Linked DNA regions of Homo sapiens. The protein of the gene in region 2 interacts with the protein of the main gene of each other region in a biochemical or structural test. Each region holds a gene or a part of one and is shown on either strand. Other genes may lie near its edges.

The links.
Region 1: the proteins of CIMIP4 (region 2) and TRPV4 interact in a test that uses a peptide from one of them, tested with the Homo sapiens proteins (one large-scale study listed by BioGRID).

The regions. Positions count from the first base shown.
Region 1 is NC_000012.12:109,782,478-109,785,703, reverse strand, and holds the end of TRPV4 (transient receptor potential cation channel subfamily V member 4), read left to right. Parts: intron 1-1,266; coding exon 1,267-1,388; intron 1,389-1,925; coding exon 1,926-2,083; 3' UTR 2,084-2,615; downstream 2,616-3,226. UniProt on the Homo sapiens protein: Non-selective calcium permeant cation channel involved in osmotic sensitivity and mechanosensitivity. Activation by exposure to hypotonicity within the physiological range exhibits an outward rectification.
Region 2 is NC_000022.11:36,994,217-36,998,037, forward strand, and holds part of CIMIP4 (ciliary microtubule inner protein 4), read right to left. Parts: intron 1-3,821.

The DNA.
Region 1 (3,226 bases), on a different chromosome or scaffold from region 2:
CTCGTGCTTGTAATCCCAGCACTTTGGGAGGCCAAGGTGGGTGGATCACCTGAGGTCAGGAGTTTGAGACCACCCTGGGCAACATGGTGAAACCCTGTCTCCACTAAAAATACAAAAATTAGTCGGGAGTGGTGGCATGCACCTGTAATCCCAGCTACTCGGGAGGCTGAGGCAGGAGAATCGCTTGAACCTGGTAGGTGGAGGTTGCAGTGAGCCGAGATTGCACTACTGCACTCCAGTCTGGCGGACAGAGCAAGACTCTGCCTTAAAACAAACAAACAAAAATGAATAGATAGGATAAAAAATTAAAGATAATATGTAAAAAAAAAAGATAATATATAAAAAAATGAGTGGATAAACAAAATGTGGGCTATGTGTACAGTGAAATATTATCTGGGCCAGGCGTGGTGACTGTAATACCAACACTTTGGGAAGCGAGGCAAGAGGATTGCTTGAGCCCAGGAGTTCAAGACCAACATAGTGAAACCCCATCTCTACAAAACGTTTTTAAAAAATTAGCCAGGTGTGGTGGCATATCCCTGTAATCCCAGCTACATGGGGGGCTGAAGTGGGCGGATCACTTGAGCCTGGGAGGTCAAGGTTGCAGTGAGCTGTGATCGTGCCACTGCACCCTAGCCTGGGCAATGGAGTGAGACCCTGTCTCAAAAGAAGGTTAAAAAAAATAATTTCTGCTTGGGGGAATGGAAGAATTTTGGAAATAGATAGCTGTGATGGTCACACAATGTGGATGTGCTTAATGCCACTGAATTGTATACTCAAAAATGATTAAGATGGCAAATTTTTTGTGTGTGTATACACACACACACACACACACACACACACGTCTTTTTTTTTTTTTTTTTGAGATGGAGTCTTGCTTTGTCCCCCAGGTTGGAGTGCAGTGGCGTGATCTCGGCTCACTGCAACTGCCTCCCAGGTTCAAGTGATTTTCCTGCCTCAGCCTCTCGGGTCACTGGGACTATAGGCACCCGCCACCATGCCCCGCTAATTTTTTTTTTAATTTTTTTTAATTTTTAGTAGAGGTGGGGTTTCACCATGTTGGCCAGGCTGGTCTCGAACTCCTGACCTCAAATGACCCACCCACCTCGGCCTCCCAAAGTGCTGGGATTGCAGGCATGAGCCACCACGCCCAGCCTTGTTATGTATATGTTACCATAATAAAAAAATAGGAGGGTGTGCTGGGGATGGTGGCATGGAGAGCGTCTCTGAGGGGTTCCCCATGACCCTCTGCTTGGGCCCTGCCAGGGTGGATGAGGTGAACTGGTCTCACTGGAACCAGAACTTGGGCATCATCAACGAGGACCCGGGCAAGAATGAGACCTACCAGTATTATGGCTTCTCGCATACCGTGGGCCGCCTCCGCAGGGGTGAGTGGAGGGGCGGGTGCGGAGGGGAGCCCCAGTCCATTCTCATCACGAATTTGCTTTGAGCAGTCCTGCTTCTTTCCGGGACTCAGTGTCCGTGTCTACAGAATGAGAGAGTGTGCCCCTGAGCTTCCTCTGCTGCTTGTGAATGCCTGGGGCACCTCACCTACGTGGCTTCATCCTGGCCCTCCCTACTGTTGACATAAGCTGGCCTGGGGAGGGAGGACGAGCTCCTCAGCCATCCCTGTGTGGAGAAAACCTTCCTGTTTGTCCAGTAAGCCATGAGCACGCGAGACGCAGCTGGAGAGGACACAGGCACTCAGGGCATTCGGCTCCAGGCTTGAATCCTGGTTCCTCCATTCTCTCCTGGGGAGGCACCTTGACCTCTCTTGAGCCCCAGTTTCCACCTCTGTAAAATGAGCATAGTCACATCCCCCCTTCAGAACACTGTGGAGTGCCCAGTACACAGTAGGCACTCAATATACGCACGCTCTCTCTCCACCAACCCCCACCCCTCCCTCTGATGTGCTCTCGGTGCAGATCGCTGGTCCTCGGTGGTACCCCGCGTGGTGGAACTGAACAAGAACTCGAACCCGGACGAGGTGGTGGTGCCTCTGGACAGCATGGGGAACCCCCGCTGCGATGGCCACCAGCAGGGTTACCCCCGCAAGTGGAGGACTGATGACGCCCCGCTCTAGGGACTGCAGCCCAGCCCCAGCTTCTCTGCCCACTCATTTCTAGTCCAGCCGCATTTCAGCAGTGCCTTCTGGGGTGTCCCCCCACACCCTGCTTTGGCCCCAGAGGCGAGGGACCAGTGGAGGTGCCAGGGAGGCCCCAGGACCCTGTGGTCCCCTGGCTCTGCCTCCCCACCCTGGGGTGGGGGCTCCCGGCCACCTGTCTTGCTCCTATGGAGTCACATAAGCCAACGCCAGAGCCCCTCCACCTCAGGCCCCAGCCCCTGCCTCTCCATTATTTATTTGCTCTGCTCTCAGGAAGCGACGTGACCCCTGCCCCAGCTGGAACCTGGCAGAGGCCTTAGGACCCCGTTCCAAGTGCACTGCCCGGCCAAGCCCCAGCCTCAGCCTGCGCCTGAGCTGCATGCGCCACCATTTTTGGCAGCGTGGCAGCTTTGCAAGGGGCTGGGGCCCTCGGCGTGGGGCCATGCCTTCTGTGTGTTCTGTAGTGTCTGGGATTTGCCGGTGCTCAATAAATGTTTATTCATTGACGGTGGAGATGGCAGGATGATGGCAGGGGTGGGAGGGATGGTAACAGGCATGAGACTGCAGCGAGGGAGATGGGAGAGCTAGGAAATGCCTGGGGGGAGCCAGGGGCAGGGGTGAGAGTGAGGGCAGAAGTCCTGACCGGGAGGCATTTAGAGTGTTGGTGGTTGGGGGCTGGACTGGGTGGTTGTGATGGTGGTGGTGGTGGCCTGAGAGGTGGCTGAGGTTGGTGTGGCTGTGGGGAAGGTGGGGGTGGAGGGAGGAGAGCAGAGTGATGCTGGTGGGGGTAATAATGCTGGCCAGGGAGAGTCATGTTGGCAGGGCGAGAGTGATGCTGGTGGGGGTGACAGTAGTGCTGGCTGGGGGATAATGATCCCCATGGAGACAGTACATTTGGGCAGGGGAGAGTAACGCTGGCCAGGGGTTGACAGTGCAGGTGCGGGGACTCTGGTGCTCATCAGGGGACAATTATACTGGGAGGGCTGTCCTGCTAGGCGGGAGGATGGTTGCCAGGCAGCACGGAGCAGGCGTGGCAGTGGGTGAGCCTGGAGTGTCAGCAGGGTGCTGGGTGTGCATGCGGGTCGCTGTGGTGAGGACCATGGTGGCAGGGGCGATTGGCAG
Region 2 (3,821 bases):
CAAAGCATATTAATAAGGATTAGAAGATTTGTGCAGAAATTATTAACAAGCCTGTTCTATAGACAAATGCAGAATCCCTTACCCAAGAGATTGTTATTATTATTATTATTATCATTATTTTGAGAGGGAGTCTTGCTCTGTCACCAGGCTGGAGTGCAGTGGCGCGATCTCCGCTCACTATAACCTCCGCCTACCTCCGCCTCCCGGGTTCAAGCGATTCTTCTGCCTCAGCCTCCTGAGAAGCCATTACAGGCGTGCGCCATCACGCCTAGCTAATTTTTGTATTTTTAGTAGAGACATGCGCCATCATGCCAGCTAATTTTTGTATTTTTAGTAGATATAGGGTTTCACCATATTGGCCAGGATGATCTCGATCTCTTGACCTTGTGATCTGCCTGGCTCCGCCTCCTGAGATTTTTTTTTTTTTTTTTTTGAGATGGAGTCTTGCTCTGTCACCAGGCTGGTGTGCAGTGGCGCAATCTCGGCTCACTGCAAGCTCCGCTTCCCGGGTTCACGCCATTCTCCTGCCTCAGCCTCCCGAGTAGCTGGGACTACAGGCGCCCGCCACCGCGCCCGGCTAATTTTTTGTATTTTTAGTAGAGACGGGGTTTCACCTTGTTAGCCAGGATGGTCTCGATCTCCTGACCTCATGATCCACCCGCCTCGGCCTCCCAAAGTGCTGGGATTACAGGCGTGAGCCACTGCGCCCGGCCTGGAGAGATTATTCTTAAGCACACACAGATCATCTACAAAAATCACCATCTACTGGGCTCTAAAGCAAATCTGAACAATTTCAAAGGATTGAAATCATTACAGGGCTGTGTTCTCCAATGACAGTCACATCAAGCTGGGAGATGGAATCCACCCCAAAGACAAGAGAGCAAACCAAGAAAGAGGAAGACACCAAATAGAGGAAATCAGAATTCCAACAATGGAAAGAAGTGAAAAAAAGAAAATCCTTGGTAAGCTGGTTCAGGGATCCCTGGATACCTGGACACAGAGGGAAAAGGACAGGACGTAAGCTACCATTCTGCCTGCTCTGTGACTCAAAGACACAATGTCCAGGTGAGCCCAGCCAAGGTTTTGATTTGTATGTGGCTTGTCCTTACCATGGGCTGACCCTCTACTCTCCCCTCCCAGCCCTGCTGCATGGAGCAGATGAGGACCTTCATGTTAGCCCACAGGGGTGTTCTGCTCTGACCTCCTTCTGAAGCTGGAGCCACGGTGAGTTGGGAGGCAGAAAATACACAAAGGGCCACTCACCGTGGCCATATTCCTGCAGGCCATCCCACATGGTTCCCCCGCAGCCCTGTCTGTGGGAAGCCTATACACCCAGGACTCACGGCCATGCCAATACTCTCCCCACATGAAGTTCACCAAACTCTCAGGACACCCAAAGCCAGACTAAGACCCAGAGCCAGCTCCATTTTCCCCCATGCTGTTTCCATGGTAGTGAATAAATTTCATGAGATCTGATGGCTTTATAAGGGGAAACTTCTTTCACTTGGTTCCCATTCTCTCTTGTCGGCCACCGTGTAAGACGTGCCTTTCACCTTCCACCATGATGTGAGGCCTCCCCAGCTACATGGAACTGTGAGTCTATTAAACCTCTTTTTCTTTATAAATTACCCAGTCTCAGGTATGTTTTTATCAGCAGTATGAAAACAGACTATATTATATTTAATGATGTAATGTTAGAATCAAGAAGGAGATAAGGATGCCTGTTTTTCCTGCTTATAGACACCATTGTCCTAGAGAGGTCAGCCAGATGCTGATATAAAGGTAAGAAAAGCCTAGTGTTTAGGAATTTAAACTCTAGCCTCTGACTGGCAGGGTTTAAATCCCAATTCTGACCGTCCCTATCTGTGTGGCCTTAATTAAGTTATTTAACTTTTCCATGACTCAATTATTTTTTATCTGGAAAAAAAAATGGGAATTGTAGCATTTACCACATGGGATTCATGTGCAGAATAAAATATATATATAAAGTACTCAGAGCAGTACCTGGCATATGTTAAATACTATGCATAAATGTAGCCATTATTACTATTCAAAAGCACTCCTAAAGAATCAATAACTAATTACTGGAATTAATTGGTGAGCTGCATAAAGCTTCTGGATACGAGATTAATATACAAAAACAAAAATTGCATTTGTGTATACGGTATCAGCAGCAAAGTTAGAAAATATAATTTTAAAAAGATATCATTTTCAACAGCAGCAAAAAAAGAGATTCTCCTGAGTAAGTCTAACAAAAAAACCTGCATGATGTTTATAGAAAAAAAAAAATCACAAAATGTTACTGAGAGATATCGAAGGAAGACTTAAATTAATGGAGGTATATACCATATTCATATATTAGAAAATTCATTATAAAGCTGACAACAGCCCTTAAATTGAGCTGTAGATTCAATGTATTTCCAATCAAAATCCCAACAGGGTTTTTCATGGAAATTTCTGTTTATTAATAACATTTGTATGGGAGAGTAAAGGGCCTAGAAACCCAAGACATTAACTGGTGATGGTGGTGGAGGGGTGGTAGTGGGAGTATTGCCTGACCAGATATCAGGCTACTTATAATACTTTGGTGATTAAAAATGTAATATTAGACCAATGGACAGAATAGAGCCTGAAACTGATCTATGCATGTGTCAAAACCTGATGGATAACAGAAGTACCACTGCAGGTCACCGGGAGGAAAGATGAGCCTATTCAATAAAAGGTACTGAGGCAGTCAGTAACCCACATAAAGAAGGAATTGAAAATGAATCCCTACTGGGGAAAGATTTCTGGTGTTGTTGTTCCATTATTTTGAGGGCTGGGCACACAGATGCCCAAGGAATGCCTGAGCTCGTCATCTCACTCTTTATACAGCTGGGCAAGCTGCCTAAAGTTTCCTCAAGCCTCAGTTTTACTACTTTCTTAAATGGCTAAAACTCACAAAAGCCATCTACAGTTTTTGAAAATGAATCCCTACTTCATACTAAAAACAAAAATCAACCCCAGGTGGATTAAAGAGTTAAATGTGAAAAGCAAAACTAAAAATTTTAGAAGACTGTGTAAAAGATGATCTACGATTTAGCATAGGATAGGAGTCCCTCAACCTGCTCCCCCTGGCAGCTTCTCTAATTCAGTAAATAGCCATCTCATCCTTCCAGTTGTTCAGGTCAAAACGTTGAAGTCAACGTTAATTCCTCTCTCACCCCAAAATCTATTCATTAGCATATTCTTTTCTCTCTGCCTTATACAAATATCCAGAATCCTACTACATCAGGCCACCTTCACCATTACCTCCCTGAGCTGCTATATTGCACAATGGTGCCTTCCAAAATAGCGCAGGTGCACTAGCCCAGCTTCCAACACCAAGCCACCATCATCTGTCCCATCTGGAGTTTTGCAGCTGCCTCCTACCAGTTTCCCTGTTTCTGCCCCATCTCCCTATGTCCATTCTCCCCATAGCAACTGGAGTGAGCCCTTAACCTGAGCCAAACAGGGCCATTCTCCTGCTTAAAATCCCGGCTTGGTTTCTCATCTCACTCCGAGTAAAGACCTTCCAGCAGGCTTCACGACCCAGCCTGTTTCCTCTGATGTCTTCTGCCTCACTCCTGTGCAGCCATACCAGCCTCACCAACCTCAAACAGCAAGTATAAAGGCTAACCCTGGGTGGGTGGAAACAGAGAGGGACAGATGGATGGGCACACTGACAGCACTGTGTGGCAGGGTGAAGCCCTGATTCATAGTGTTTGCCAATTTCCAGAGTGTAAATACTACTAGCATGGCCAATTTTAAGACAGCATTTATGTGCCAGTCAGTTCAGAGAG